Regions from separate parts of the Homo sapiens genome. Here regions 2 and 3 are each linked to region 1. The links come from fine-mapping of genetic effects on gene expression. A gene starts in region 1. Each other region holds a variant in brackets. All regions are shown on one strand. Distances are between the middles of the regions. Region 1 holds the start of DRD4 (dopamine receptor D4). Region 2 overlaps PHRF1 (PHD and ring finger domains 1). Region 3 overlaps DEAF1 (DEAF1 transcription factor).

Region 1 (10,332 bases):
TTGTTTGTTTTGGGGACGGAGTCTCGCTCTGTCACCCAGACTGGAGTGCAATGGTGCGATCTCGGCTCATTGCAACCTCCACCTCCCAGGTTCAGGCGATTCTCCTGCCTCAGCCTCCTGAGTAGCTGGGACTACAGGTGCCCGCCACCATGCCTGGCTAATTTTTTTGTATTTTTAGTAAAGACGGGGTTTCACCATGTTAGCCAGGATGGTCTCCATCTCCTGACCTCATGATCCGCCCACCTCGGCCTCCCAAAGTGCTGGGATTACAGATGTGAGGCACCGTGCCCAGCCATATTTTTTTTAAGACAGAGTCTCGCACTGTTGCCCAGGCTGGAGTGCAGTGGCGTGTTCTTGGCTCACTGTAACCTCTGCCTCCCGGGATCAAGCGATTGTCCCACCTCCGCCTCCCAAGTAGCTGGGATTATGGGCGCCCGCCAGCATACCCAGCTAATTTTTGTATTTGTAGTAGAGACGGGGTTTCACCATGTTGGCCAGACTGTTCTCGAACTCCTGACCTCAAGGGATCCGCCTGCCTCGGCCTCCCAAAGTGCTGGGATTACAGGCGTGAGCCACTGAACCCGGCCATTTGGGTATCTTCTTTGAAGAAATGTCTATTCAAGTCCTTTACTCATTTTCATTATTTATTTTATTTTGAGACAGGGTCTCACTTTGTTGCCCAGCTTGGAATATGTTGGCTCAATCACAGCTCACTGCGGCCTCAACCTCCTGGACTCAAAGGATCCTCCCACCTCAGATTCCCAAAAAGCTGTGACTATAGGCTCACGCCACCACACCCAGCTAATGTTTGTATTTTTAGTAGAGATGGGGTGTCTTTCTTTTTTTTTTTTTTTTGAGACAGAGTCTTGGTCTGTTGCCCAGGCTGGAGTGCAGTGGCACGATCTTGGCTCACTGCAAGCCCCGCCTCCCAGGGTCACGCCATTCTCCTGCCTCAGCCTCCTGAGTAGCTGGGACTACAGGTGCCCGCCACCACGCCCGGCTAATTTTTTGTAATTTTAGTAGAGACGGGGTTTCACCATGTTAGCCAGGATGGTCTCGATCTCCTGACCTTGAGATCCGCCCGCCTCAGCCTCCCAAAGTGCTGGGATTACAGGCTTGAGCCACCAAGCCTGGCCTGTTGTGGAGGATCTTCTATACATAAGACCATGTCATCTGCAAGTAGAAATAGTTTTCTTTTCCAATTTTGGATACCTTTAATTTCTTTTTCTTGAGTAATGCTCTTGCTAGAATGTCCAGAACAATGTTGAACAGAAGCAGCAGCAGTGGGCATCCTTGTCTCTTTCAAAGGCTTTTTGTTTCTCACCATTGAGTATGATGTTAGCTGTGTTTGTATTTTGTTTGTTTGTTTGAGACAGTCCCCCTCTGTCATTCAGGGTGGAGTGCAGTGGTGCGATCTCGTCTCACTGCAGCCTCCACCTCCTGGATTCACGTAATTCTCGTGTCTCAGCCTCCTGAGTAGCTGGGACTGTAGGCGTGCGCCACCATGCCCAGCTAATTTTAATTTTTGTATTTTTAGTGGAGATGGGATTTCAACATGTTGGGCATCTGGTCTTGAACTCCTGATCTCAAGTGATCCACCCGCCTCGGCCTTCCGAAGTGCTGGGATTACAGGCATGAGTCACGGCGCCCGGCCTGATGAAGTTTGTTTCTATTCCTAGTTTATTGAGTCTTATTATCATGAAAGGGTTTTGAATTTTATGAAATGGTTTTTTCTGCATCAGTTGGGATGATCGCGTGGGTTTTTCTTCATTCTGTTAATGTGGTGTATGACATTGAATTTCGTCTGTTCGTTCACCCTTGCATTCCTGGGATAAATCCCACTGGGTTATGGTACATAATCCTTTTAAAAATGCTGTTTTTCGGCCAGGCACTGGCTCACGCCTGTAACCCCAGCACTTTGGGAGGCCAAAGTGGGCGGATCATGAGGTCAGGAGTTTGAGACCAGTCTGGCCAACAGAGTGAAACCCTGTCTCTACTAAAAATACCAAAATTAGCTGGGCATGGTGGCACGTGCCTGTAGTCCCAGCTGTTCAGGAGGCTGAGGCAGGAGAATAGCGTGAACCCGGGAGGCAGAGGTTGTGGTGAGCCGAGATCACACCACTGCACTCCAGCCTGGGTGACAGAGTGAGACTCCATCTCAAAAAAAAAAAAAAAATGCTGCTTTTCTGGCAGGCAGCACTTTAAAAGGGACTGTGTTTGCTCATATTTTTTCGAGAACTTTTGCATCTATATTCATAAAGGATACTCATTTGGAATTTTCTTTTTGTGATATCATTACTGTTGAGTTTTGAGAATTATTAATCTTTTTTGTATACAAGCCATTTGCTGGATATATGATTGCTAATTTTTAAAAAAAATTTGTTTCTTTTTTAATTTTAATTTATTATTTATTTATTTATTTATTTATTTATTTATTTATTTTGAGACGGAGTCTCGCTCTGTCGCCCACGCTGGAGTGCAGTGGTGCGATCTTGGCTCACTGCAAGCTCTGCCTCCCGGGTTCACGCCATTCCCTTGCCTCAGCCTCCCGAGTAGCTGGGACTACAGGTGCCCGCCACCACGCCTGGCTAATTTTTTGTATTTTTAGTAGAGACAGGGTTTCACTGTGTTAGCCAGGATGGTCTCGATTTCCTGACTTCGTGATCTGCCTGCCTCGGCCTCCCAAAGTGCTGGGATTACAGGCATGAGCCACCTCGCCCAGCCTATTTATTTATTTTTTGACACAGAGTCTTGCTCTGTTTCCCAGGCCAGAGTGCAATGACGTGATCTCCGCTCACCGCAACCTCTGCCTCCTGGGTTCAAGTGATTCTCCTTCCTCAGCCTGCCAAGCAGCTGGGATTACAGGTGCACACCACCACGCCCGGCTTTTTTTTTTTGAGACGGAGTCTTGCTCTGTCACCCAGGCTGGAGCGCAGTGGCACAATCTTGGCTCACTGCAATCTCCGCCTCCCGGGTTCATGCCATTCTCCTGCCTCAGCCTCCTCAGTAGCTGGGATTACAGGTGCCCGCCACCACGCCCGGCTGATTTTTTTGTATTTTTTAGTAGAGACAGGGTTTCACCGTGTTAGCCAGGATGGTCTCGATCTCCTGACCCTGTGATCTGCCTGCCTCGGCCTCCCAAAGTGCTGGGATTACAGGCGTGAGTCACCACGCCTGGCCAATTATTTGTATTTTTAGTAGAGATGGGGTTTCACTATGTTGGCCAGGCTGGTCTTGAACTCCTGACCTGGTGATCCACCTGCCTCGGCCTCCCAACGTGCTGGGATTACAGGTGTGAGCCACTGCGCCTGGCGTAGACAACCCAATTTTTAACAAAAGCAAAGATTTTTAACAGGCACATTCCAGAAGAGGGCATGCTGACAGTTAACAGGCACATGGGAAAAGTGGTCAAACATGAGTAGCCATCAGGAAAATCAACGACGTCCTACTACACTAAAATGGAAGAAACATTGCCAGACGTGGCCATTTGCAAATGTCGTTTCCTGGTCTGTGTCTTTTGATTCTCCTGACAGCATATTTGAGTTAATTTTTTAATGTGTAAGGTATGAGTGGAGGTCCTCATTAAAAATTGTTTAGGCTGGCTGTATGGCTCATGCCTGTAATCACAGCACTTTGAGAGGCTGAAGTGGGAGGATCATTTGAGCCCAGGAGTTTGAGACCGGCTGGGCTAACATGGCGAGACCCCGTCTCTACAAAAAATAAGAAAATTAGCTGGGTGTGGCACCACGCATCTGTAGTCTCAGTTGTACAGGAGGCTGAGGCCAGAGGATCACTTGAGCCCAGGAGATTGAGGCTGCAGTGAGCCATGATTGCAGTAAGATGTGATCACATCCAGTTACATTTGATTTTCAGATAAACAACAGAAGTTTAGTGGAGGCTGGGGGCAGTGGCTCACAGCTGTAATCCCAGCACTTTAGGAAGCTGAGGCAGGTGGATCACCTGAGGTCAGGAGTTCGAGACCAGCCTGGCCAATATGATGAAACCGTGTCTCTACTAAAAATACAAAAAAATTAGCCGGGCGTGGTGGCGGGCGCCTATAATCCCAGCTACTCAGAAGGCTGAGGCAGGAGAATCGCTTGAACCCGGGAGACGGAGGTTGCAGTGAGCCAAGATTGTGCTGCTGCACTCCAGCCTGGGTGATAAGAGTGAAACTCCATCTCAAAAAAAAAAAAAAAAAAAAAACAAATTGGGGTTGTCTGTCTTTTCTCATTGTTTCCATTGTTTCTGGATCTGTGTGTCAGAGATGTGTGCTGCACACATCCTTTCTCCGCCTAGCTTGGTTTTCACTCTTGGTGGTCGCAGACATCTTGGGGGCTACTTGAAGGAACTCTAAGCCGACCAGAGGCTGGGCTGGACTCGCCGTTTGGCGCCCAGCCGGAGACCCCAGGGCCACCCTCCCCGGTTCCATCCTGGGAGAGAAGAAACTTCCACTGTCCCAGTCTCTCCTGTGGTGACTTCTTTTGCTCAAGGGTTCACAAGGGCAGCAGACTGATCTGCACAAGAGGGACTGAGCCTGGCTGCGGCCGCACCTGATGCCTGTGCACACCTGTCCCTGGTGGTCTCTCCTGTGGTGACTTCTTTTGCTCAAGGGTTCACAAGGGCAGCAGACTGATCTGCACAAGAGGGACTGAGCCTGGCTGCGGCCGCACCTGATGCCTGTGCACACCTGTCCCTGGTGCAGGCCCTTCCCCCGCAGCCCCGTGACCTTGTCCTGTGAGGCTCACGGTGCCTGCTCCTTCTCAGAGTCCTCATTTCTCCCTTTAACGCACGCCCTGTCAGCGCCTCCGTCTAGCCCGTGTCCTCCAGACCTTCGAGGTCAGGGGCCTCAATTCCTGGCACAGCCCCTCCACTCCAGGCCTCCCAGAAACAGACTAGAGCATCAGGATGTGCGCCGCCTGGGGTCCCACAGAGTGGTGCCCCCTTTTAGTGTCTTCTAGGCCCCTTAGTGACAGACTACAGAAAATACCTCTCAGGTCACAGGTCACCCCTCTTTGGTGAAGAGTCCATAGAATTCTCTGCTGCGCTTTGCAAGCACTTTCTCTTCTGCACGTTTGGAACCTACCCCGGCCTGTCGTGTCTTTCTCCTGGCCTCCTCGCGAGCCGAACCTACTGTCCGGTCCCGGGACCCCCTGCCCAGGGTCAGAGGGGCGCCTACCTAGCTCACGGTCTTGGGCCGGAGGGAATGGAGGAGGGAGCGGGGTCGACCGCTCAGCTGTCCGCCCAGTTTCGGAGGCGGCCACGCGAGGATCAACTGTGCAACGGGTGGGGCCGCGGCTGACCGTGGTGGTCGCGGGGGCTGAGGGCCAGAGGCTGCGGGGGGGGGGCGGCGGGATGAGCTAGGCGTCGGCGGTTGAGTCGGGCGCGGAGTCGGGGGCAGGGGGAGCGGGCGTGGAGGGTGCGCACGAGGTCGAGGCGAGTCCGCGGGGGAGGCGGGCAGAGCCTGAGCTCAGGTCTTTCTGCGTCTGGCGGAACGGGCCTGGGAGGGAGGTTTTGCCAGATACCAGGTGGACTAGGGTGAGCGCCCGAGGGCCGGGACGCACGCACGGGCCGGGTAGGATGGCGCTGGCGTCGATGCCCGCGCGCTTCAGGGCCTGGTCTGGCCGCCCCTCCATCCTTGTCGGTTTCTCGGGTCGCGGACCCCGCGCGGCGCCGGGCGATGCTGGCCTGCCCGTGGCCACCACCTCGCTTCATTCCCGTCTCTTTGGGCCGCCGCATTCGTCCACGTGCCCGTCTCTCCCTGCGCAAAATTCCAAGATGAGCAAATACTGGGCTCACGGTGGAGCGCCGCGGGGGCCCCCCTGAGCCGGGGCGGGTCGGGGGCGGGACCAGGGTCCGGCCGGGGCGTGCCCGAGGGGAGGGACTCCCCGGCTTGCGACCCGGCGTTGTCCGCGGTGCTCAGCGCCCGCCCGGGCGCGCCATGGGGAACCGCAGCACCGCGGACGCGGACGGGCTGCTGGCTGGGCGCGGGCCGGCCGCGGGGGCATCTGCGGGGGCATCTGCGGGGCTGGCTGGGCAGGGCGCGGCGGCGCTGGTGGGGGGCGTGCTGCTCATCGGCGCGGTGCTCGCGGGGAACTCGCTCGTGTGCGTGAGCGTGGCCACCGAGCGCGCCCTGCAGACGCCCACCAACTCCTTCATCGTGAGCCTGGCGGCCGCCGACCTCCTCCTCGCTCTCCTGGTGCTGCCGCTCTTCGTCTACTCCGAGGTGAGCCGCGTCCGGCCGCACGAGCATCCTCACCTGCTCCTCGGTTCCCCGTCCCTGTCCCTACGGAGGACCCGGCGCGACCCGGCCCCTTTCTGGTGCGGAGCTTCCAGCTGGGGCGGCGGCAGGGGCGCTGCGCCTTGTCCCTCGGCGATACACCCACCGCCGCCACCTCGCGACCTTCCACCCGCTGCGCTGTCTGTCCCCCGACCCTCGTTCCTCTTCTCCTTCCCCGTCTGTCTTGGCGTCTGTTATCCAGGAGATGCCCGTCCTTCTATCCAGGGACCCCGGAAACAGGCGACTTTGTCAAGCCCAGTCCCCTCCGTAGCTGGATTTCACCTCCAGGGCAGCCAGCTGGACAGACAGGCAGATGCAGGCTCAGCCCCCTGGCTGCCGTGGGACACACACACACACACACTGCCACAGCCACTGCCCACCACACACACCTAGTGCAGATGCTGGCACACCCCCAGAAGGAGGCTCACAGCTCGCAGGGGAGACCTGGGCTGGACAAAACCCAGGGGAGGGGAGGGTGTGTGGGGACCAGGCCCCTGCTGAGAACCCTGGGGGGAAGCCTGAGGGGGAATTGGGGGATGGAGCCCACACTCCACACCAGGTCTGGCCCTCGAGTGGGTCGGCCTTGGTGCCAGCCCCTCTGCGGCCAGAGAAAAGCAGCTTAGGGCTGAGCTGGAGACGCGGTGTCCCCGACTGTGGGGGAGGGGGACTCGAGGTTTCCCCTTGATGGACACAGTGAATCCAGGCGGCTGGGGCAGAGACCAGCAGCACGGGACACGCGTGACCTGTGCTCCTTTCGAGCCGCAGACGTCACAGTGACGACGTTTAAGCTCCTAATCTCCCCAAATCGGCGGGAAGGATTAGAGGGGCTGCCTGCTCCTTTGCCCTTGGAGAGAGTCACTCCACGTGGAGTCCTACGCTGGGCACTGGGCACGGTCTTCATATTTTTAATTATAATTTATCTTCAAGACAATTATGATGTGGATACTATCATCACCCTTGTCTTACAGATGAAGAAACAGAAATGAATTAACGTGCCCGAGTCTCCCACAGAGAACTTAGCCAACAGAGCAGCCAGCTTCGCTTCTAGGCCCAGCGGGGACCCTGCCTACCCCAGGCTGGGGAGGGGCTCCCTTTGAGCCCGATGATATCAGGCCCGCCCCCAGGGAATTCCCCAGGCCGTTCTCATGTTTGTAACAAAAGGGAGACCAAGGCCAGAAGCCGTGATTCACGCCTGTAATCCCAGGACTTTGGGAGGCAAAGGCAGGAGGATAGTTTGAGACCAGCCTGGGAAACATACCAGGCCTGGTCTCTACAAAAAATTTTAAAATATCAGCCGGGGGTGGTGGCTGCGGCTGTTGTCCCAGCTATTCGGGGGAGCTGAGGCGGCAGAATCGCTTAAACCTGGGAGGCGGAGGTTGCAGTGAGTTGAGATCTCACCACTGCACTCCAGCCTGGGCAACAAGAGCGAAACTCCGTCTCAAAAAACAAAAAGAAAAACAAATCAGCCGGGGGTGGTGGCGCGCGGCTGTAATCCCAGCTACTCTGGAGACTGAGGTGGGAGGATCGCTTGAGCTCAGGAATTCCAGGCTACAGTGAGCCATGATGGAGCCACAGCACTCCAGCCGCGGTGACACAGCGAGACCCTAACTCAAAACAAAGGGAGATCTGCGTGGGGAAGGGGTGTTTCCCTGCCCGGTCCTCTGGCCTCTGGCTCACAGCCGGGCCCCCTTCTCCGTATTCAGCCCTGGAACTACCCATAAGAGTGGGGGCGGGTCACAAGGGCCCGCGGTGGCTGGGAAACCTCAGGGCCTGTGGTGTCGCCGCGCAGGTCCAGGGTGGCGCGTGGCTGCTGAGCCCCCGCCTGTGCGACGCCCTCATGGCCATGGACGTCATGCTGTGCACCGCCTCCATCTTCAACCTGTGCGCCATCAGCGTGGACAGGTGCGCCGCCCTCCCCGCCCGCGCCCCGGCGCCCCCGCGCCCCGCCCGCCGCCCTCACCGCGGCCTGTGCGCTGTCCGGCGCCCCCTCGGCGCTCCCCGCAGGTTCGTGGCCGTGGCCGTGCCGCTGCGCTACAACCGGCAGGGTGGGAGCCGCCGGCAGCTGCTGCTCATCGGCGCCACGTGGCTGCTGTCCGCGGCGGTGGCGGCGCCCGTACTGTGCGGCCTCAACGACGTGCGCGGCCGCGACCCCGCCGTGTGCCGCCTGGAGGACCGCGACTACGTGGTCTACTCGTCCGTGTGCTCCTTCTTCCTACCCTGCCCGCTCATGCTGCTGCTCTACTGGGCCACGTTCCGCGGCCTGCAGCGCTGGGAGGTGGCACGTCGCGCCAAGCTGCACGGCCGCGCGCCCCGCCGACCCAGCGGCCCTGGCCCGCCTTCCCCCACGCCACCCGCGCCCCGCCTCCCCCAGGACCCCTGCGGCCCCGACTGTGCGCCCCCCGCGCCCGGCCTTCCCCGGGGTCCCTGCGGCCCCGACTGTGCGCCCGCCGCGCCCAGCCTCCCCCAGGACCCCTGCGGCCCCGACTGTGCGCCCCCCGCGCCCGGCCTCCCCCCGGACCCCTGCGGCTCCAACTGTGCTCCCCCCGACGCCGTCAGAGCCGCCGCGCTCCCACCCCAGACTCCACCGCAGACCCGCAGGAGGCGGCGTGCCAAGATCACCGGCCGGGAGCGCAAGGCCATGAGGGTCCTGCCGGTGGTGGTCGGTGGGTTCCTGTCCTGAGGGGCGGGGAGGAGAGGAGGGGGGGGGTACGAGGCCGGCTGGGCGGGGGGCGCTAACGCGGCTCTCGGCGCCCCCAGGGGCCTTCCTGCTGTGCTGGACGCCCTTCTTCGTGGTGCACATCACGCAGGCGCTGTGTCCTGCCTGCTCCGTGCCCCCGCGGCTGGTCAGCGCCGTCACCTGGCTGGGCTACGTCAACAGCGCCCTCAACCCCGTCATCTACACTGTCTTCAACGCCGAGTTCCGCAACGTCTTCCGCAAGGCCCTGCGTGCCTGCTGCTGAGCCGGGCACCCCCGGACGCCCCCCGGCCTGATGGCCAGGCCTCAGGGACCAAGGAGATGGGGAGGGCGCTTTTGTACGTTAATTAAACAAATTCCTTCCCAAACTCAGCTGTGAAGGCTCCTGGGGGCTGATGGGGAGTGGGGAAGAGGGGTTTCTGCCTCAGTGGCCCCAGGCCCCCCAGCCAGTTAACCTCTTTCTCCCCGCCAAGGAAGCCCACAGAGCAGACCCCACCAAGCCGGCCGCCTGCTCAGGGTGAGGGGGGAAGGGGCCCCCGAGAGCCACTCAGTTCCGCAGCGCTGGGGCCCAGCTTCCCCTCTCTGCAGGGGAGAGGAAGCAGCACCCAGCAGGGCAAGGTGTCTCCTGGGGAAGCCCAGTTCCGATGGGAAGAAACAAATGGGGAGAGGCGGGGTGGGGGGCTGTCAGCCGCCAGGCCCTGCCCGGGCCAACTCCCACCTCTGAGAACCAGGCACAGGGGGCTCCAGGCTCATGCTGCCCCAGCAGACCCCGGCAGGGGAGCCCAACCTGTCATTTTAGAAGCTGCCTTGAGGCCAGAGCCTAGCTTCCTGCCAGTCCCTGGCCAGAGGATGCCCCAAGCCCCACAGCAAGGGGCCTGTGGTGATGGGTGGGGCCCCACCAAGTGGCTTCCCTGGAGGGAGCTCCGTGCTCAGTCACCCCTGGTGCCCAGCCAACCTCTGCCCAGCGTCCACCAATGTGGCTGGGCCAAGGGGTGGGAGCAGGGAGGCGGCAGCGGGGCCAGGGGCTGGGCAGAGCGACCCAAGCTGCCTGTCTGCACCCTGGCTCCATCAACCAGTGCAGCCCCTGACCCTGGGGGAAGAGGGGCGGCTCCCAGGGCCCTCCATGCAGGAACAGCCTACCCTGGACTGGATCCAGCTCTCTCCCAGGCCCAGGTTGTGGGAGAAATGGGGGACCCTCCGCCTCCCAATCGTGCTGGCTGGAACTTTCCTGTGCTGGGGATTCGGCGTTTGCAGCCAGGGTGGCCAGTCAGGGTGCCAGGCTCCCATCTGAACACTGACAGACTGTGGGCTGTGCAGTCTACAGCATTGGGCACAACCTCAGCTTGCTAAAATACTCAGT
Region 2 (10,332 bases), 53 kb before region 1:
GGAGTTGGGGCTGCTGGTGCAACCAGGAGGTCCTAAGCTAGGGGCTCCCATTAACCCAGCATCCTAACTACAGGTCCTGGTGGTCCCAAACAGGTCTTGTGCCTGGTGCTTGTGCCAGAGGGTACCTGCGGAGGCTTCCTGGGTTATTTTGTGTTCTCTGGCAAAATAGCCCCTGGTTACTTTTGTGTGATATCGAGGAAGGATGTTGTTCAGCCTCACGTAACCTGAACGTTCCTGCTGCTGTGGTGGAGGAGTGTAAGAGGCCCGTGGAGTCTTCCCTCACCAGCTGTGGTAAAGTTCAAAGGCCTCAGGACTTAGCCCCACAGGTGCATGGACTCGCAAAGTTCAGCCTCATTCCTGAGCTGGTATTTCTGGCCAGCTCCTATGTGCCAAACCCCACACGGCCTCACTGATCTCTTCTGGCAGCCCTGGGGCAAGCCCTGCCATTGCCTGTCGCCCCACCTAACCCTTGGAGGTGGTCCCCAATCTCAGTGCATCAAGGGAGAGGCCAGGAGCTGTTTGTTCACATACTATGGCTCACTGCAGCCTCGAACTCCTGAGCTGAAGTGATCTTTGCACCTCAGACTCCCGAGCAGCTGGGACTACAGGCGGTTTCCACCACACCTACCTGGTTTTTAACGGTTTTGCCATGTTGCCCAGGCTGGTCTCATAACTTGCAGGCTCAAGTGATCTGCCTGCCTCAGCCTCCCAAAGTGCTGGGATTACAAGCATGAGCCACCACGCCCGGCTGATTCACATTTTTTTTTTTGAGACTGAGTCTCACTCTGTCGCCCAGTGGCATGTAGTGGCGCGATCTCAGCTCACTGCAACCTCCGCCTGCCAGGTTCAAGCAATTCTCCTCCGGAGTAGCTGGGACTACAGGTGCACGCCGCCATGCCCGGCTCATTTTTTCTATTTTAGTAGAGATGGGGTTTCACTGTGTTGCCTAGGCTGGTCTTGAACTACGGAGCTCAGGCCGTCTGCCCACCTTGGTCTCCCAAAGTGCTAGGATGACAGGCGTGAGCCACTGCACCTGGCTACCAATTCACATTTTTTACTTTCTATGTGAAATTCATCATCAAATGAGGATTTGCACTCGGGACAGTTGGACCCTGGGACTCCCCCAGCCCTGCTCCTCCCCCCAGCCCTGCTCCTCCCCCCAGCCCTGCTCTGTTATCTCTTAGGTGGTCTCTTTGAAGTGTTCCTTGGTAGATTCATGTGAGAGAGTCTGCCTCCCTCTTTCAGATATGTTTCTCCAGGGCAGGGACTGCATTCGCCTTGTGCTGCACAAAGTAGGAGCAGGGTAGGTGTTGGAGCAGGCGTCCTGGAAGATGTGGGGTCTGTTGTCAGGGTGGTCACAGCTATTGCCAGGGAGTTAAGGTCCTCTTATCTGAGAGCTGTGGTCACTGCTAGGTCTCAGTGCATGCTGTGGGAGAGGGGTCACCCTCCTGGATGGGCCGTGGCCCTCGTGTGTCTCTCAGAGCCAGTGTCTCTAGGATTCAGGTGCGGGACGAGCAGGGCGTCTCTGCGGAGTTGCTGGGTCCACCAAGCACCAGGGGTGCAGACTGCCTTGAGCGGGGATCATGACCAGGTGTTTTCACCTTAGGGTGGCAGGTAGAAGAAAGGTTAATTACTAATTTGGCAAAACTACTTCTACAATCGCTGTTTCCAGGCAGTAGTAAGATTTGGCAGTTGACAGTTGGATGGAGTTGACATTCTTCACTGTTTTATAAGGCATCATCTTAGAATCTAGGGTTTTGCACTGTCTTGTCAGATGGGAAGTGAGGCCGTCCTGGTTTCTGAGCCCCGTTAGGGTTTGTTGTCCAGGGGTTTCCAGACAGCAGTGGCGCTGACAGCCACTTTCCCCCGTTGCTGTGGTACATGTGCAGCCCACAGTGGTGGTGGGAGCTGAGCTCCAATGCAAGGAGGCCCTGAACTCGAGGGCAGCTCTGGCCCCCTACTTCCTGGCCTCTTGTGCGATGCGCTTTCCTCTGATCATGGATGGAGGTTGGACTTGGTGGGAAACAGAGTGCTGCAGGGCCGGCTTCACTGCCTCGCTGGATTCCTGACTCACTCTCCTAGGACAGGCCTTTCCTCCGAGAGTCGCCTGGGAAACAAGGTCAATAGCACTGATGAGAAATGAACCACGTGCACGTATCTCCTTTCTTATCTGGGACCAAAGTTTGAGGCCCTGGTGTGGAAGGAGGAGCGTGTCCAACTAGATTTCCCAAGGCTTTGTACGGGATCCTGTGTGGTTTCACAGTGACCTTGCAGAGTGGGAAGGGCAGGGGTCCCGGCTGACGGGTCAGGGCCTTGAGCAAGTGGTCTTGGGAGCCGAGGGGTGGGCCTGGCCTCTGTGCCTTCTGCCTCCTCAGCTCTGGGTACCACTGGGGACTCAGCAGCACCCTGGTGGATGGGGTTGGGGTGCGGTCAGAGGAGCCTCCAGGCATCCCAACAGTGGCCAGCCTTGGCAGGGAGAGCACCCTACGTGTCACTGAGGCCCCTCTTGTGCCCAGCTGATAAAGCCCGGCTCTGCCTCAGCTCAGGATGAGGCCGTTTTGTTCGTATATGGTGTTGCGATTCCTCAGGAGCATTGCAGTTTTTTGAGATGGAGTTTTGCTCTTATTGCGCAGGCTGGAGTGCAGTGGCGCGATCTCGGCTCACTGCAACCTCCGCCTCTCAGGTGCAAGCGATTCTCCTGCCTCAGCTTCCCGAGTAGCTGGGATTACAGGCGCCCGCCACCACGCCTGGCTAATTTTTGTATTTTTAGTAGAGACGGGGTTTCATCATGCTGGCCAGGCTGGTCTCAAACTCCCGACCTCAGGTGATCCGCCTGCCTCGGCCTCTCAAAGTGCTGGGGTTACAGGCGTGAGCAGCTATGCCTGGCCTAATTTTATATTTTTAGTAGAGATGGGGTTTCTCCATGTTGGTCAGGCTGGTCTCAAACTCCCGACCTCAGGTGATCCGCCCGCCTCAGCCTCCCAAAGTGCTGGGATTACAGGCGTGACCAATTTTTTTTTTTTTTTTAGTTAAAAACAAATTTTTATTTTCTGGCCGGGTACAGTGGCCAGCTAGGATCTGGCTTTATGGGTAGCTCTGTAAATGTGAATCATGTGTAAGGCTTACTGGTGAGGGTTGTTCTGTGGGTGATATCTTAGGGCTCACCCTTCACGTGCTGTGGCGGTGGATGTGACACTGGGACACTGGGGTGTGGCCTGTGGGGATACTGCTGAGAGTTGTTCTGTGGGTGATATCTCAGGGCTCACTCTTCACGTGCTGTGGCGGTGGATGTGACACGGGGATGTGGCCTGTGGGGAGAGGTCATAACTCTTCAGAGGGTTCTTTGCAGCCTGGGACAGTTTGGAAGTTGCTTGGCTCTTCTTTCTTTCAGAGCTGAGCTCAATGTGCAGCAATGGATGACGACAGCCTGGATGAGCTTGTGGCCCGGAGCCCAGGGCCGGATGGACACCCACAGGTCGGCCCTGCGGACCCGGCAGGTGACTTTGGTGAGCTGCCTAGCGCCGGGTAGGGGCGTCCCCAGGAGGAGCAGGGTGCCTGGTGTTTCCCTTTGGAGGTCGTCTGTGTGTGTCACTTGTCAACTTTCAGTCTAAAAAAATTATGCTTTGATTTTAAATTGCGGAAGTAGTGTATTGTTTTGTTTTATTTTTAATGCAAACAACACAAATGTTGAACGAAAGGATGTTCCCTTTCCTTGCTTGTGCCCCCACCTTGCCGGCCCTGGGGAAGCCGTTAGCCGTTTGGCAGGTGCTCCTGACGCCTCTATGCCTGTGCAAAGCAACCTGCTCTCTGCTGCATGGTCTTGACGCCGCCCTGCGGCCTGTGTCTCACCCTGGTGTCTAGAAGAAAGCAGCGTGGGCAGCAGTGGGGACTCTGGGGACGACAGTGACAGCGAGCATGGAGATGGCACAGACGGAGAAGACGAGGGGGCGTCTGAGGAGGAAGACCTGGAAGACAGATCTGGTGAGACAGCTGGTGTTCACGCCGGCTCCTGTGTTTCCTCTTGTCGTGATGGGGACAGCCTTTTATAACACATCCTCCGTGAGAGTGCTGTCACCACAGCTGGCCATGTCCCTGCGGTCACCTACGGTGAGGCCTTATATTCAGCTGTGGTGACGGCTCACTTTATTTGTAGTACTTCATTTCTTTTTTTTTTTTTTTTTTGAGACAGGGTGTCGCTCTGTTGCCCAGGCTGGAGTACAGTGGTGCCATCTCAGCTCACTGCAACTTCTGCCTCCCGGGTTCAAGTGATTCTCCTGGCTCAGCCTCGTGAGTAGCTGGGATTACAGGCACGCACCATGACACTTGGCTAATTACTTTTTGTATCTTTAGTAGAGACGGGGTTTCACCATCTGGTCTGGAACTCTTCCTGACCTCAAGTGAGCCGCTGTGCCTGGCCTGTAGTCCTCCTTTTTTTTCTTTTTTGAGACGGAGTCTCGCTCTGTCGCCCAGGCTGAGTGCAGTGGCGCGATCTCGGCTCACTGCAAGCTCTGCCTCCTGGGTTCACACCATTCTCCTGCCTCAGCCTCCCGAGTAGCTGGGACTACAGGCGCCCGCCACCAAGCCTGGCTAATTTTTTGTATTTTTAGTAGAGATGGGGTTTCACCGCGTTAGCCAGGATGGTCTCGATCTCCTGACCTCGTGATCCGCCCACCTCAGCCTCCCAAAGTGCTGGGATTACAGGCGTGAGCCACCGCGCCCGGCCTTTTTTCAAGACGAGCCTGGCCAGCATAGTGAAACCCCCTCTCTACTACAAATACAAAAAATTAGCCGGGTGTGGTGGTAGACGCCTGTAATCCCAGCTACTCGGAAGGCTGAGGCAGGAGAATGGTGTGAACCTAGGAGGTGGAGGTTGCAGTGAGCCGAGATTGTGCCATTGTACTCCAGCCTGAGCGACAGAGCGAGACTCCATCTCAAAGGAAGAAAAAGAAATTCTGGCTGTCTGGGCGCGGTGGCTCACGCCTGTAATCCCAGCACTTTGGGAGGCCGAGGCGGGCGGATCA[G/C]GAGGTCAGGAGATCGAGACCATTGTGGCTAACATGGTGAAACCCCGTCTCTACTAAAAATAGAAAAATTAGCCAGTCGTGTTGGCACGCGCCTGTAATCCCAGCTACTTGGGAGGCTGAGGCAGGAGAATTGCTGGAACCCGGGAGTCGGAGGTTGCAGTGAGCCAAGATCGCCACTGCACTCCAGCCTGGGCAACAGAGCGAGACTCTGTCTCAAAAAAAACAAACAAAAAAACCCCACCAAAATTAGCCGGGCGTGGTGGTGCGTGCCTGTAATCCCCACTACTCAGGAGGCTGAGGTTGGAGGATCGCTTGAGCCCAAGAGGTCGAGGCTACAGCGAGCTGAGATCACGCCACCACACTCCAGCCTGGGCCACAGAGCGAGACTCTGTCTCAAAAAGATAAAAAATTCTCAGCTCACTTACAATTGGCTGATGGTTGTGCCCTTGAACTTCTTTTGAGAGAACAATGTTCCAAAGGGCAGGTCTGCGCTGGGTGTGGTGGCCCAGGCCCATGGTCTCAGCTACGCAGGAGGCTGAGGTGGGAGGACCCTTGAGCCCAGGAAGTTGAGGCTGCATTCCAGCCTGGGTGTTGGAGCGAGACGTTATCTCAAACAAAACAAAGGGGAGACAAGTCCGTGGGGTGCGCTGGTGGTACCTCCTTCCTTGTCCCCTGTTGCCATCACCCTCGGTGGTGCACAGCCTGTGAGGCCACCAAGGAGGTGGCCCTGCCCCGGCCCTGCTGTGGTTGCTTCCTCAGAGGGAGGCCGAGCTCAGGCTCAGAACTTTGCCTTTCCACTACTTTCCTTCTGACATCACCCTTGGGCTGGAAAATCCATGGTCCTCAAGTGGCTACTGTGATCTGTGTGTAGCAGTCTTTCTGCATAGCCCTGTGGTTATCAGGGTTAGAATGTTCCAGAAAGGTAACACTCCTGTTTGAGACTGTTGGTAAGGGAATGGCACTCATGGCCTGAGCCAATGTGTGTTGGCCGTGTCCTTCCAGAGTTCGATGTTTAGCTCTGCACGTGCTCTGCGGGTCTGCTTGGGTCTGCAGGTCCTGAGGGGCTTCCCTGCTCCCTCCCAGCATCAGGTTAGGGCTCTGGTTCATCTGTAGTAGGTCTCCGCACCAGTTCTGGCGTTGCCAGGGCTGAAAGTGTGGGCCGTCAGGGCCGCCAGGTGACTCTGTCCTTGAGATCCTGAGGGCACATTGGATGCCAGAGACTCTGGGTTGGGGGCTGGAGTGAAGGTGGCGGGAGCCTCAGCAGGGCCCCCACCGTGTCTGCGCTCACCTTCTAGCAGCAAACAGTGCGCCAAGCAGCAGCTGGGGGACAGGGTCATAGACACTGAGAGCTGTGGGCGTCCAGGGGAGGGGCAGGCTCCATGGACCTGGGGTGGGGAGAGGCTTCTGGAGAATCCAAGCTGCCACCTGAGGGGCAGGAGGAGGTGGCTGGGCAGAGGCGGCAGGCCAGGACGGGGGAGCTGTGAAGAGACAGGTTTATGGAGACCTGGAGCCCCTGAGGGCTGAGCGCCCCGAAGGAAGGGGATGGGAAGGCACTGGAGAGGTGTTGGTATAGCCACTGTGAACACTTCTTTTTATTTCTCCAGGACCTTTTTTTTTTTTTTTTTTTTTTTTTGAGACCGAGTTTCACTCTTGTTGCCCAGGCTGGAGTGTAGTGGCGCAATCTCGGCTCACTGCAGCCTCTGCCTCCCGGGTTCAAGCGATTCTCCTGCCTCAGCCTCTCGAGTAGCTCGGATTACAGGCGCGCACCACCATGCCTGGGTAATTTTTGTATTGTTATTCGAGATGGGGTTTCACCATGTTGGCCAGGCTGGTCTTGAACTCCTGACCTCAGGTGATCCACCCGCCTTGGCCTCCCAAAGTGCTGGGATGACAGGCATGAGCCACCGCGCCTGGCCAGGACTGTTTTTTAAACATGAAGAAGTAGCCAGTGGGTCCCTAACTGGTGGGAAACATGTTGAGGAGGGAGTTATTCCACGAGCAACACCCACGTTGCTGGGGCTTGGGAGCTTTCGTTCTCATTGCTTTTCCCACCCTGGTGTTTCCTGCTGGAAATCACTTGTTACACTGCCCTTTCCAGCTTGAGGTAGTAGCCCTTTCCAGCTTGAGGTAGTAGCCCTTTCCAGCTTGAGGTAGTAGCCCTTTCCAGCTTGAGGTAGTAGCCCTTTCCAGCTTGAGGTAGTAGCCCTTTCCAGCTTGAGGTAGTAGCCCTTTCCAGCTTGAGGTAGTAGCCCTTTCCAGCTTGAGGTAGTAGCCCTTTCCAGCTTGAGGTAGTAGCCCTTTCCAGCTTGAGGTAGTAGCCCTTTCCAGCTTGAGGTAGTAGCCCTTTCCAGCTTGAGGTAGTAGCCCTTTCCAGCTTGAGGTAGTAGCTCTTTCCAGCTTGAGGTAGTAGCCCTTTCCAGCTTGAGGTAGTAGCCCTTTCCAGCTTGAGGTAGTAGCCCTTTCCAGCTTGAGGTAGTAGCCCTTTCCAGCTTGAGGTAGTAGCCCTTTCCAGCTTGAGGTAGTAGCCCTTTCCAGCTTGAGGTAGTAGCTCTTCAACTCTTTTTTTTTTTTTTTTTTGAGGTCGAGTCTCGCTCTGTTGCCCAGGCTGGAGTGCAGCAGCACGATCTCAGTTCACTGCAAGCTCTGCGTCCCAGGTTCACGCCATTCTCCTGCCTCAGCCTCCCAAGTAGCTGGGACTATAGGCACCTGCCACCGCGTCCAGCTAATTTTTTGTATATTTATTTATTTATTTATTTTTGAGACGGAGTCTTGCTCTGTTGCCCAGGCTGGAGTGCAATCGTGCAGTCTAGGCTCACTGCAACCTCTGCTTCCCAGGTTCAAGCGATTCTCCTGTCTCAGCCTCCCAAGTAGCTGGGATTACAGGCACACGCCACCACACCCGGCTATTTTTGTATTTTTTGTAGAGACGGGGTTTCACCATGTTGGCCAGGCTGGTCTCAAACCCCTGACCTCAGGTGATCCACCTGCCTCAGCCTCCCAAAGTACTAGGATTACAGGCTTGAGCCACCACGCCTGGCAATTTTTTGTACTTTTAGTAGAGACGGGGTTTCACTGTTAGCCAGGATGGTCTCTATCTCCTGACCTCGTGATCTGCCCACCTCAGCCTCCCAAAGATGCCGGGATTACAGGCGTGAGCCACCACGCCCGGCCAGTAGCTCTTCAACTCTTAACATGAAAGATGGGAACTTAAAACTCTTCTGCTGCCTCCCTCGCAGCTCTCACTTCTCCCAGCCTCTTTAACAGTGTAAATATTTCTGTTCTGGGTGTGTCTTTCCCTTTGCCAGATAACAGAGGGTCCTGGCAGTGATGCCCCAGTGCTGGCAGGGTCCTGCCCACATGCGTGGAACCGGGAGGGTTTGGAGGGTTTCGGGCCTAGGAGGAACCTGCCACCCACACCGAGTCTGCTCCTCTTCCCATGTGAACTTGTGTTCTGTTTACTTTAGCGTTGTTTCATTGGAGTTTGGTACAAAGAAGATAGCAGTGCACGTATGGGCTCTGCCGTGTTGAACTCGGAGCATCTCCCTGCTCCCTGCTGGTCAAGGTGTAGCCTCAGAACCACTCCGAATTGGCCAGAACGGTTGTGGTTAGTGGCCCAGTTAGGAGTCTGTGCTCTGCCTCCCACAGGGAGGAGGAACAGGCAACCTCAGAAGGAAGTCCCTTCCGCGGGCAGAGGGTTTGTGGTCCTCATGCTTTGAGAAGGGGGCGTTGGAAATGGGGGCTGCTGTCAGGGGGCTGCTGCACTGAGGGGCTCGCTTGGAGGCTCTGAAATGAACCTGATGGTCTCTGGGACCTGTGCTAGGCCCCAGGGCTGCCCTGCCTCTCGAGGTCTGCCTCAGCCCCAGGCTCAGCTTAGAGGAGCTGGTCTGGCACTCAGGACGCTCAGCTTCCCGCCCCTCGGTGCAGGGCACCCGAGGCTTCAGGTTAGGTGCAGGGCAGGGCTCCCAGGGTTGTGGATGTGCTGAGCGTGGACGTGGAGGTAAGTGGCAGGAGCCTGCGGGGAGGTGGGCTGTGCATTGCCGACCTGGTGTCCTGAGCGCAGCCTGGGCCCGCTTGCCTCCAGTGCCGCGGTTCACGCTGCCCATCCTGCTTGCACCAGCTGGCATGTTTCCTCTCCAGGTTCCGAGGATTCTGAAGACGACGGGGAGACATTGCTGGAGGTAGCGGGTACTCAGGGGAAACTGGAAGCCGCTGGCTCTTTCAATTCTGATGATGATGCAGAGAGCTGCCCAATCTGTCTCAACGCATTCAGAGACCAGGCCGTGGGGACGCCGGAGAACTGTGCCCATTACTTCTGCCTGGACTGCATTGTCGAATGGTCCAAGGTGAGTTCACCTCTGGTTGGGTGCTTCCTCCCTTCAGGATGGCCTCCCTGTTTATAGGTGACCCAGCCTGTGTTCAGCCTCTTGTGAGGTTCTAGTTGTCTGCTCTGCGGCTGACCCTGGGGCCACAGGATTGAGTCTGGCTTGGTCTTTGCTTTGTGAGCACCATGGCTCTTGGGGGTGTGGGTGAGCTCATGTGAGGCGTTTGTGGTGTATTGGTCAGGGGCAGGAGAGAGGATGGCCGTGGGTCTCCCAGGACCAGCTGCAGAAACCCTGGTTGACATAGGGGCCATCTTGGCCTGCAAGCCAGAGGCAGGTGTGCTGTGGTGCGTGGTCACTTTGCTGCCTTGACATGTGGTTCTCTCAGTTGATACAGAAAACACCGGTACGATTTGGCATTCATTCACAATAACTGGCATCAAAAGAGACTGTCCTTAAAACAGGTGAATAGAGTTTACCGTAAACGTGCAGTGTATTTTATATTTCAAAATGAACTTTTAGAAGCAGTCAGCTCCCCCCTCCCTTTCTGAATATTGTGAAAAATGTCAGAAAAGGAGAGCTTGCAGTCTGAGGATGACTCATGAGTCCCCGACCTCTGTACTCAGGGCTCAGCTCCGACACCACTACCTCTTGACTCCCTCCCCTCCCTGCGATTGCACCAGCAGCCCGTGCTGTCCCCGGCTCTCTTCAGGACCGTGACCTCACCCAGGGTTCCTAGTGACTGGGTCCTCCTGTTCTGTTTCACTGAGTAGCTGAAAACTGCCTGTATGCTTAGTTTGAAGCAGGACCCAGACATTCCTCATGCTGCTGGTGGTGGCAGGCTGTGATGTCACCCAAAGTCTGGCTCTGGTACTTCCTGTTCCTGTTCTGTTGTGGTGGGTCCACAGCACACAGTAGATTCAGACTTAGACTTTTCTTTTTTTTTTTGTTTTTTTGAGACGGAGTTTTGTTCTTGTTGCCCAGGCTGGAGT
Region 3 (9,867 bases), 45 kb after region 1:
CTCCACGTTGGTCAGGCTGGTCTCGGACTCCTGACCTCAGGTGATCCACCCGCCTCGGCCTCCCAAAGCGCTGGGATTACCGGCGTGAGCCACCACGCCCAGCGGGGTTTCTTACAATTGGAGAAGAAAGTTACAAAGGAACTAGCACAAACCCTGAGGTTCTGCACTGGAACTAGAGACACTGGGGCAAACTCATGGTTTTCAACACACACAGATTTGGAGCACAAACACGCACACGTGCACATGAGAACATTTCTGACTTCTGCCCACCAAGGGCACCTGGGGACAGAGATCCAGGAGCCACATGCACACCTTGTACCAGGGGCAAGCGGTCGATGCGAACCCCAGCCCTCCTGGAGAAAAAGCTCTGATTTCAAGCATTTGCTGATTTCTTGGTATAAATACTTCACCAACACCCACCCCACACTTTTTTTTTTTTTCCAGTTAATAGAGATGGGGTCTCCTTATGTTGCCCAGGCCGGTCTCAAACTCCTGGCCTCGGCCTCCTAAAGTGCTGGGATTAAACAGGTAAGCCACACGCCTGTAATCCAAGCACTTTGGGAGGCCAAAGCAGGCAGATCACAAGGTCAAGAGATCAAGACCATCCTGGCCAACACGGTGAAACCCCATCTCTACTAAAAATACAAAAATTAGCCGGGCATGGTGGCGCGTGCCTGAAGTCTACACTCCAGCCTGGGCAACAGATCAAGACTCCATCTCAAAAAAAAAACAAAAAAAGGATGAGCCACCACGCCCAGCCCTGAGGTAAGCTTTAAAGATGGAAAGAGTTTAGATAGGCAAAAGAGAGAATAATGAAACAAGCAAATGAAAATGAAAAGGTAAGTTTTTCATGAACAAGTTTCTTGCGCTGTCTGTGACAGTGAAAAATGGAAAACATGCATTTGCCACCAGCAGGGGAGGGTTCAATCAATCATGTATTGATCATATGCACCCTTTAAAAAAGTATAATGATGGCTGGGCACGATGGCTCACGCCTGTAATCCCAGCACTTTGGGAGGCCAAGGCAGGTGGATCATGAGGTCAGGAGTTTGAGACCAGCCTGACCAGCATGGTGAAACCCCATCTCTACTAAAAATACAATAACAAAAAAAAATTAGCTGGGCATGGTGGCGTGCACCTGTAGTCCCAGCTACTCAGGAGGCTGAGGCAGGAGAATTGCTTAAACCTGGCAGGCAGAGGTTGCAGTGAGCCGAGATCGCACCACTGCACTCCAGCCTGGGCGACAGAGTGACACTCTGTCTCAAAAAAAAAAACAAAAAACGTATAATTATACAGAAATCTTGGCTGCATGTGGTGGCTCACACCTGTAATCCCAGCACTTTGGGAGGCTGAGGCGGATGGATCACTTGAGGTCAGGAGTTCGAGATCTGTAATCCCAGCTACCTGGGAGGCTGAGGCAGGAGAATCACTTGAACCAGGCAGAGGTTGCAGTGAGCCAAGATTGCGCCACTGCACCCCAGCCTGGGCAATAGAGCGAGACTCAGTCTCAAAAAAATAGAAGTGCAGTTAAACGAAAAATCAAAGTTAGAATGCATTTACAGTGTATCGTCATTTTAAAGATTTAGGCCACATTTAGGCCTTGGTTTTTCTTTCTTTCACCAGATACCGAATGTCTATGCCAGCTCTGGAGAGACCAAGACCTGCCACTGGGGAGTGTCTACCCTCAAGAGGACAACAGCAAACTCACCAGAAAGAACTTCAGGCTTCACAGGCCAACTGGTTTCTAGGGGCGTGCCCTGCTGCTGTACCAAAAGCAACTTCCACAGCACACACATGAATGGACGTGGCTGTGTGTCAGTAAAACTTTATTTACAAACATAGGCAGTGGGCCACACTTTACCAGCCACTGATCTAATGCATCAACAAAAACAACAAACCAAACCAAAATGAATCCCATTTCACTTAGGAATTCTTTCATTGGAAGCAATTCTGAGGACAATAACCTGTACATGTGTGAATTCTTTCAAACCTACCTATTTTGGGATGTGACGTTGGCAACGCAGCTTCTGGAAACGGTGCGATCTGGCAGCTGTCCTGATAGCCGGGGTAGTGAGGCTCAGGGTGGCTGGCCCTGCATGGGGGCTGCACGCTGGCCTCTTGGACTGTTGGGGAGAAAAAGGACAGGGAGGCTCGGGATGGTTGTCCGCACAGCAGACTCTAAATATCACGCTGTATGGCTGCGCCATTCAGTACACATAGTAGCTTATGGCCACACGTGGCTACTGAGCCCCTGAAATGTGGTGATCCTGAATCGTTGACATAATAGGATTGGGGCTATATCAGGTGAAATAAAATAGATTATAAAAATCAGGCCGGGCGCGGTGGCTCACGCCTGTAATCCCAGCACTTTGGGAGGCCAAGATGGGCGCATCACGAGGTCAGGAGATAGAGACCATCCTGGCTAACATGGTGAAACGCTGTCTCTACTAAAAATACCAAAAAAAAATTAGCCGGGCATGGTGGCAGGCGCTGTAGTCCCAGCTACTTGGGAGGCTGAGGCAGGAGAACGGTGTGAACCCGGGAGGCGGAGCTTGCAATGAGCCGAGATCATGCCACTGCCCTCCAGCCTGGGGGATGGAGCGAGACTCCACCTCAAAAAAAAAAAAAAATCAGTTCTAACTCTATTTTCCTCAGTGTGGCTTCTAGAATATTCTCCAGCACACAACCAGCTAGGCTGCATTTCTGTTGCACAACTGCAGTCAAAAGCAGGAGCCGGCAGACAGAGAGTATTTTCAGCTTTGCCAGTTCTGGCATCTGTCACAAGTAACCCACTGCCACACGCCAACCCCATCCACACTGCACCGCCCACCTGACGTGGCTCACACGCTGTCCCCACCAACAAACGCCTGGTTCAAGGCCCCTCTCGAGGCACCCAGCAGCCTATGCAGCCCAATGTGGCGTCGGGGATGTGATGTCACAGACAGGGATATGCTGAGGACGCGTCAGGCAGGCACTGGAGCAGCTCACCTGTGGCCCCTGCGAAGACGTCGCCCTGGGCCGGACTCTCTGATATGACAGCAGTGGCCTCTACCGTGGACGCTCGGTCAAAGGTCAGTGCCCCCGAGGTCGTGATCTGTCCCGAGGGGGTCACGGTGACTGGAAAGGCAGAAGCACATTTCACGCGGCCAGGCAGTGGCGCCCACGGCACACAGGTCCCGTGCCACCCACGGGCGCCAATCCTTGTGGGGGCCTGGGCTGAAGGGCGGGCAGTGGTAACTGTACCCTCCCATGTGAAGGACACGGGGGAAATCCCAGACCTTGGAGAAGACCTCACAGGAGAAAACCAGGATGGCCAGGATGGCAACTTGCCACTACCAATTGTTCGCTGTTTAAACTGTGAACCATGGAAATGTGCTGCCCAGCCAGAAAACAAACATAAAATAAAACTTTCAGTGATTTTTAAGTACTTCGTGGTTCGAATTAAGAAAAAATCTTTAATCCAAGCTGAAGGTAAAAAGCAGCCGTGTCCCACAGCAAGGCTGCCCTGTGTCCCACAGCAAGGCTGCCTCTCCAGCTCAAAAAAAAATCCTGGCGACAGATCTTGAGACTCTGCTGCTGTGGGACTCTTCCTGCACCCACCACCCAGGGCCTCAGGAAGGAGCTGACAGGGTGTTTTAGAAAGACCTTACTCTATAAATGCAAAAACCCAGACTTAGTTAACAAAAGCCTATTACAAAGACATTTTCTCCTATTGCTACCTCTCCCCATTTAAATCCTGTCTGTACAAAAAAATAAAAACATTAGCTGGGCATGGTGGCACGTGCCTGTGGTCCCAGCTACTTGGGAGGCTGAGGTGAGAGCAGTGCCTGAGCCTGGGAGGCCGAGGCTGCAGCGAGCCGGGATCCTGACGCCGCCCTCCAGCCCGGCCACAGAGAAAGACCCACAGAGCTCTCCGCAGCCCTCGTCCAGCGCACTGAGAATCCCTCACCAAGGACGCCCTTGTCAGGAAACGTCCCCTGAGCGTGTGCTGGGCACTCAGCCATGCTCACTCATACTAGGAAACAGCCCAGGACAAGGCCAACAGTGTCCGGGTCCCAGGGAAGCAAGACCGAGCTGGGCACTGGGACACCCCTTCCCACCCGGGGGACGCACTGCAAAGGAGTGTGATGGCGTTGGAATCCCTCTGGCCACGCAATGTGCTTTAGAAGTGAGAATCCCGCAGTGGCCGTGGGAGTGGTGACGAGAGAAGGCAATGCACTCAGGTCCCCTCAGTAAACTAGAGCTGTGTTTTCTCAAACTCACAGGTGGTAGCCGCGGTGGCTGGAAGCAATGTGATGTTCTTGGGGGAGTCCTTCTTCACGGGAGTTGTGGGCAGTTCATTCTCCTTCTTGCGCCTTTTGTAAGGCACAAAAAGCCTGACTGGGCCACTCTGGGGGAGAAAGGAGAGAGGCCACCACCTTCATGTGTGCAAAAGCTATGCTGCGCTTGCAACTCCTCCTTAAGTGGGGGCACCGCGGGGTGTGTGAGTCACATGGTGAGACCACATTAAGATGGTAAGCGCCCCTAAAGATCCCACCTCTTTTTCTTTTTTGAGACGGAGTTTCACTCTAGCTGCCCACGCTGGAGTGCAGTGGCGCCATCTTGGCTTACTGCAACCTCCGCCTCCCAGGTTCAAGTGATTCTGCGTTAGTCTCCTGAGTAGCTGGGATTACAGGCATGTGTCACCACACCCGGCTAATTTTCTTTCTTTCTTTTTTTTTTTTTTTTTGAGACAGAGTCTCGCTCTGTTGCCCAGGCTGGAGTGCAGTGGCACAATCTGGGCTCACTGCAAGCTCTGCCTCCCGGGTTCATGCCATTCTCCTGCCTCAACCTCCCGAGTAGCTGGGACTACAGGCGCCCGCCACCAAGCCTGGCTAGTGTTTTGTATTTTTAGTAGAGACGGGGTTTCACCATGGTAGCCAGGATGGTCTCGTTCTCCTGACCTCGTGATCTGCCCACCTCGGCCTCCCAAAGTGCTAGGATTACAGGCGTGAGCCACCACGCCCGGCCGACTTTTTTTTTTAAATAATTTATATCTCTTCATTGACATTCTCCAGTGAGGAGACAGTGTCTTCAGACCTTCCATGCAATCTCTAGCTGTGGTTTCCTTCAGTCCTCTGAACATACTGAGGATAGCCATTTTAAAGCTTTTTCCTGTTAACCCCAACATCCGGACCTCTCCAGGCAATTTCTGTTGCCTGCTTTCTTCCTGTGTATGGTCCAAGGCTCCTTGCATGTCTTATCATCTTTTGTTAAGAATCAGACACCGCAGGTGATACATTGTAGCAACAGTGGAAAGCAGTTCTCCTTTCTCTGGGATCCTTGCTGCTGTCAGCTTGTTTATTACTCAGGTACGGAGCTGGACTATCTTACTGAGCCTGTTCTCCTGGGGCGGCCTCGGCTGCTGCTCCTCTGAGGGCTCGGCCCTGGGTGGGGTGCAATCACCTTTGGTGGTGGGAGTTTTGGCTGTCGCTCTTCCTGATCTCTGTTAAGCTGTTGGTGTAGTCAAGTGTCAGAATCAACTAACTGCCAGCTGCCTGCTCCATTACTTTCAACAATGCCCTGGGGCACACACTGCTCCACTGTCTGAGCCAATTAAATTAGGGCTTCTTTACTGAGAGGTTCGATCTTGAAGGTCGGTTTCCCAGATGGGTTCTTCGCTGTGGCTTTCCT[C/T]GCCTCTCTGGTAAACCTGCTGACCTACAGTTTAGTTTCTTGCTCTAATGGAACTGCTGGCCTCCTCTTAACTGCTTACCATCAAAATGTCCATTCTTTTCCAGGGCACTTTTAGGCTTGAACATCCCCATACTGTTTCAAATCAAGTCAGTTCCTTTGGGAGGGGCTTTGGAGCTCTCTGTTCTTACGGCCTCTCTCTCTTTTGGGCTGAATGTCTGAGCCCCTACTATAGACCTAGAGGCAGGAACAGTGCCTGAGTCTATCAGAGGGAATTCTGTTGCATTAGCCGGGTTCTGTGTGGGGGGCAGCAGCCTCTCACTGCATGGACACCCCACCCTATGGGCAATGTGGGTTGATGGAAATTGGGGCTCCGTATGCTTGGCCTCCCATGCCTGGGTAAAGCCTCTGCCCTCTGAGTGGGGATGACTGAAGAGATTTTCAGTCACACTTCCCAGGAATTTACTGCAACTTAGAGCTGAAGGGGTTGAGAAATGCTGGTGGCCTGCCCCTCCCAGTGAGATACCATATCCCTTGACCGGGAACTGCAAGGAGTGGGAACCGTTTTCTTGGTCACAACCACCCACAATGGAGCCTCCACCATAGGGAGCTGGGGGCAGAAAGGGAGGGAAGGAGCTGGTCGTAGCTCAAACGTCACAATCCTCACTGCCCTTTCCAAGACTTACTACATTTTCTTGGATGTTTATTTGCTGTACTCCCCTAGGACAATTTCTGGAGACCTTAAGGGGTTATTTTTTCACAATTTTCACTAGTTATTTCTCTGGAGAGTTGGTCCACTGAGCTCATCACACCACCACTCCCCAAGCGGAAGCCAAAAGTTCTAAAATTTGATGAAGTCCAATCCAAGAAATCCTAGTTCTAACTCCAGGTCAGGAAGATTTTCCAATGTGTTTTCTCCTAAAAATGTTATAGTTTCACCTTTCACTTTAGATCGATGACCCATTTTGAATTCATTTTTGTACCAAGTGTGAAGTTTAGGTCATCCTTTGTCTCTGCTGATGAACGTCCTGTCACTCCAAGGCCATTTGCTGGAGTCTACTATGACACTCTAGTCTGACCCAGATCGTGGGGTCTCTCCCTCTGCCAGTGCCACACTATCTTGATTACTGTCACGAGCCCGTAAGTCTTAAGACCCCGCAATGTGATTCCACCCATTTTAAACTTTTATTTCAAAACTGTTTTGGCTTTTTTGTTTCAAAACTGTTTTGGCTTTTTTATTTCCTTTACCTTTCTATGCAAATTTTAGAATCAGCTTGTCTGCATCTAAAAAGAATCCTGCTGGGATTTTGATAGTCATTGTGTTAAACCTACGAATCAACTTGGGAAAAAGTCGCATCTTTACTGAGTCTTCTAATCCACGGGCGCAGGACGTCTTTTGACGTATTTCAATCTTCCCTGGTCTCTCTCTTCAGCATTTTCTTTAGTATCTTCCACGTACAAACCCTGTACATGATTTCCTAGACTGACATCTAAGTACTTCAGTGTTGGAGCCCCTGCAAATGATCTACCTGCAGGCTCAACTGCCAATGGGACCGACGTCTCCTCCCGGCTCCTTTACTCCTGCAGCGTCTCTAAGAGTCTCACCGACTGGCTTTTCCCAATCAACTTCAAAATTATTTTACGTTCACAAAATTGTTTTTTCCACTAGAATCACATGAAATCTATATATCAACTACACAATTCTAGGATGTTTAGTGTTTCACCCCAAGAACACGGTAGGTCTCTCCATGCTCTTTTTTTTTTTTTTTGAGGTGCAGTGGCTCACGCCTGTAATCTCAACACTTTGGGAGGCTGAGGCGGGCGGATCACATGTGGTCAGGAGTTTGAGACCAGCCTGACCAACATGGCAAAACCCCATCTCTACTAAAAATACAAAAATTAGCTGGGCATTGTGGCACATGCCTGTAATCCCAGCTACGCGGGAAGCTGAGGCAGGAGAAGTGCTTGAATCCAGGAGGCGGAGGTTGCAGTGAGCCGAGACCGCGCCACTGCACCCCAGTGTGGGCGACAGAATGAGACTTCGTCTCAGAAAAAAAAAAAGAAAGAAAAATTATTTTGGGTCTTTGTGAAGCAGTTAAGAATTTAGAATAAGGAAATACGTCAAAAAGGCGTTAAAAGCTCTACACATGAATAAGTTTACAGTAGCATTTTTCTGACATGTTACAAAATGAGGAATATAAAATGGCATGCATACAAGGAAAAGCGTGTATGTTTAGTTTTAGAGTTAAGGCGGTGACATTATAACCGCTTTTCATTATTTAAGGTTTCCACAAATGTTCTTTGAGCAACATCTTGGGGGCCAACCACGTGTTCCCCATCGAGACATCAGGATTCACTGTGACGTATCAGGGAGGAGGGAACAGAGCAACCCAGGAGAAGTGAGGACAGTGTCTCTCTCCAAGGCAGAGGGCAGGAGGGAAACAGCCGAGAGGCCAAGGGCTGTGGGACCCACTCAGCCGCCCCCAGCCCCACCAAGTCATCCTGTTCCAGACACGCTGGCCACTTACTAAGGTCATGTCGTCGCAGCAGGCAGCACAGGTGCAAGAGGCAGCGTGAGGGTTTAAGATCCCATCCTGAGATGTGAAAAGAACCACCATGCATTAGCAAGTCAGCCCCTAAATGTCAATCATTCAATAATAGAAGATTTCAACCACTTTTACCACTTACCTACCATTCATAAATATAAAAATTCTTTTTTTTTTTTTTTTTTTTGAGACAGAGTCTTGTTGGGTTGCCCAGGCTGGAGTGCAGTGGCACGTTCTCGGCTCAGTGCAACCTCTGCCTCCCCGGCGCAAGCAATTCTCATGCCTCGGCCTCCCAAGAAGCTGGGATTATAGGTTTGCACCACCACACCCAGCTAATTTTTGTATTTTTAGTAGAGACAGGTTTTGCCATGTTGACCAGGCTGGTCTCGAACTCCTGGCCTCAAGCAATCTGCCCGCCTCGGCCTCCCGAAGTGCTGGGATTACAAGCGTAAGCCACCGTGCCCAACCTCATAAAGATAAAAATTCTGCAAAATCAGGGCCGGGCATGGTGGCTCATGCCTGTAATCCCAGGACTTTGAGAGGCCGACGCAGGCAGACCACCTGAGCTCAGGAGCTGGAGACCAGCCTGGCCAACATGGTGAAACCTCGTGTCTGCTAAAAATACAAAAATTAGCTGGGCATGGTGGCGCATGCCCATAGTCCCAGCTACCTGGGAGGCTCAGGCAGGAGGATCGCTTGAACCCGGGAGGCAGAGGTTACAGTGAGCTGAGATCACACCACTGCACTCCAGCCTGGGCAACAGAGGGAGGCCTTTGCCTCAAAAAAAAAAAAAATTGTGAGAAATCAGGTAATGCCCAGGCCAGGTGTGGTGGCTCACACATGTAATCCCAGCACTTTGGGAGGCCGAGGCGGGTGGCTCACTTAAGGTCAGAAGTTCAAGACCAACCTGACCAACATGGTTGGTCTCCATTAAAATACAAAAATTAGGCCGGGTATTGTGGCTCACGCCTGTAATCCCAGCACTTTGAGAGGCGAGGCAGGTGGCTCACTTGAGGTCGGGAGTTCGAGACTAGCCTGGCCAGCGTGGTGAAACCCTGTCCCTATTAAAAAATACAAAAAAAATAGGCCGGGTATTGTGGCTCACACCTGTAATCCCAGCACTTTGGGAGGCCGAGGCAGGCAGATCACCTGAGGTCAGGACTTCAAGACCAGCCTGGCCAACATGGTGAAACCCCATCTCTACTGAAAATTAAAAAAAAAAAAAAAAAAGCCAGGTGTGGTGGCGGGCACCTGTAATCCCAGCTACTCAGGAGGCTGAGGTGGGACAATCCTCTGAGCCTGGGAGGTGGAGGTTGCTGTGAGCCAAGATCAAGCCACTGCACTCCAGCCTGGGCAACAGGGTGAGACTCTGTCTCAAAAAAAAAAAAAAAAAACCACAAAAACAGTAATTTCCAGAGCCTTCTCCTTTTCACAATGCCATTATTGGTGGCAGGACCTACCTCTTTCCTTTCAAGATTTGCAAAAGTCTCTACAGGAATTGCTTCCTTAACAACACCCAAGGAGCTAAACTGGAATAGGAATTAGAAGTCCTCTTTTCTTAGTAGACTGACGAGAAGTTAGGTGACTTTGAAAGGGTCACACGCATTCAAACAGAAGCGATTATCTTAACTTCTACTGTTTTCATTTTTTG

The links.
Region 2: its variant is fine-mapped to the expression of DRD4 in testis (GTEx, PIP above 0.99).
Region 3: its variant is fine-mapped to the expression of DRD4 in thyroid (GTEx, PIP above 0.99). The same link has a PIP of 0.9 or more in breast, hippocampus and lung.

What each region holds. Positions count from the first base shown.
Region 1 is chr11:631,367-641,698 of GRCh38, forward strand. It overlaps DRD4 (dopamine receptor D4), which reads left to right and starts at 5,903. Exons shown (of 4, transcript NM_000797.4): 1 at 5,903-6,223; 2 at 8,067-8,179; 3 at 8,282-8,940; 4 at 9,035-9,340. The coding sequence starts at 5,939. The coding sequence ends at 9,237. RefSeq lists enhancers at 4,185-4,720, 4,721-5,254, 5,790-6,323, 6,324-6,858, 6,859-7,392 and 4 more.
Region 2 is chr11:578,101-588,432 of GRCh38, forward strand. PHRF1 (PHD and ring finger domains 1) reads left to right here. Exons shown (of 18, transcript NM_001286581.2): 2 at 3,392-3,506; 3 at 3,862-3,981; 4 at 9,159-9,364. The coding sequence starts at 3,413. Among named protein-coding and RNA genes, the nearest start is that of PHRF1, 6.8 kb to the left of the region's middle. RefSeq lists enhancers at 5,663-6,164, 6,165-6,664. The variant G/C (reference allele first, on the strand shown) is at 5,022.
Region 3 is chr11:676,700-686,566 of GRCh38, forward strand. It overlaps DEAF1 (DEAF1 transcription factor), which reads right to left. Exons shown (of 12, transcript NM_021008.4): 6 at 8,199-8,264; 7 at 4,264-4,390; 8 at 2,989-3,117; 9 at 1,995-2,123. Among named protein-coding and RNA genes, the nearest start is that of DEAF1, 14 kb to the right of the region's middle. RefSeq lists enhancers at 1-479, 2,407-2,907. The variant C/T (reference allele first, on the strand shown) is at 5,674.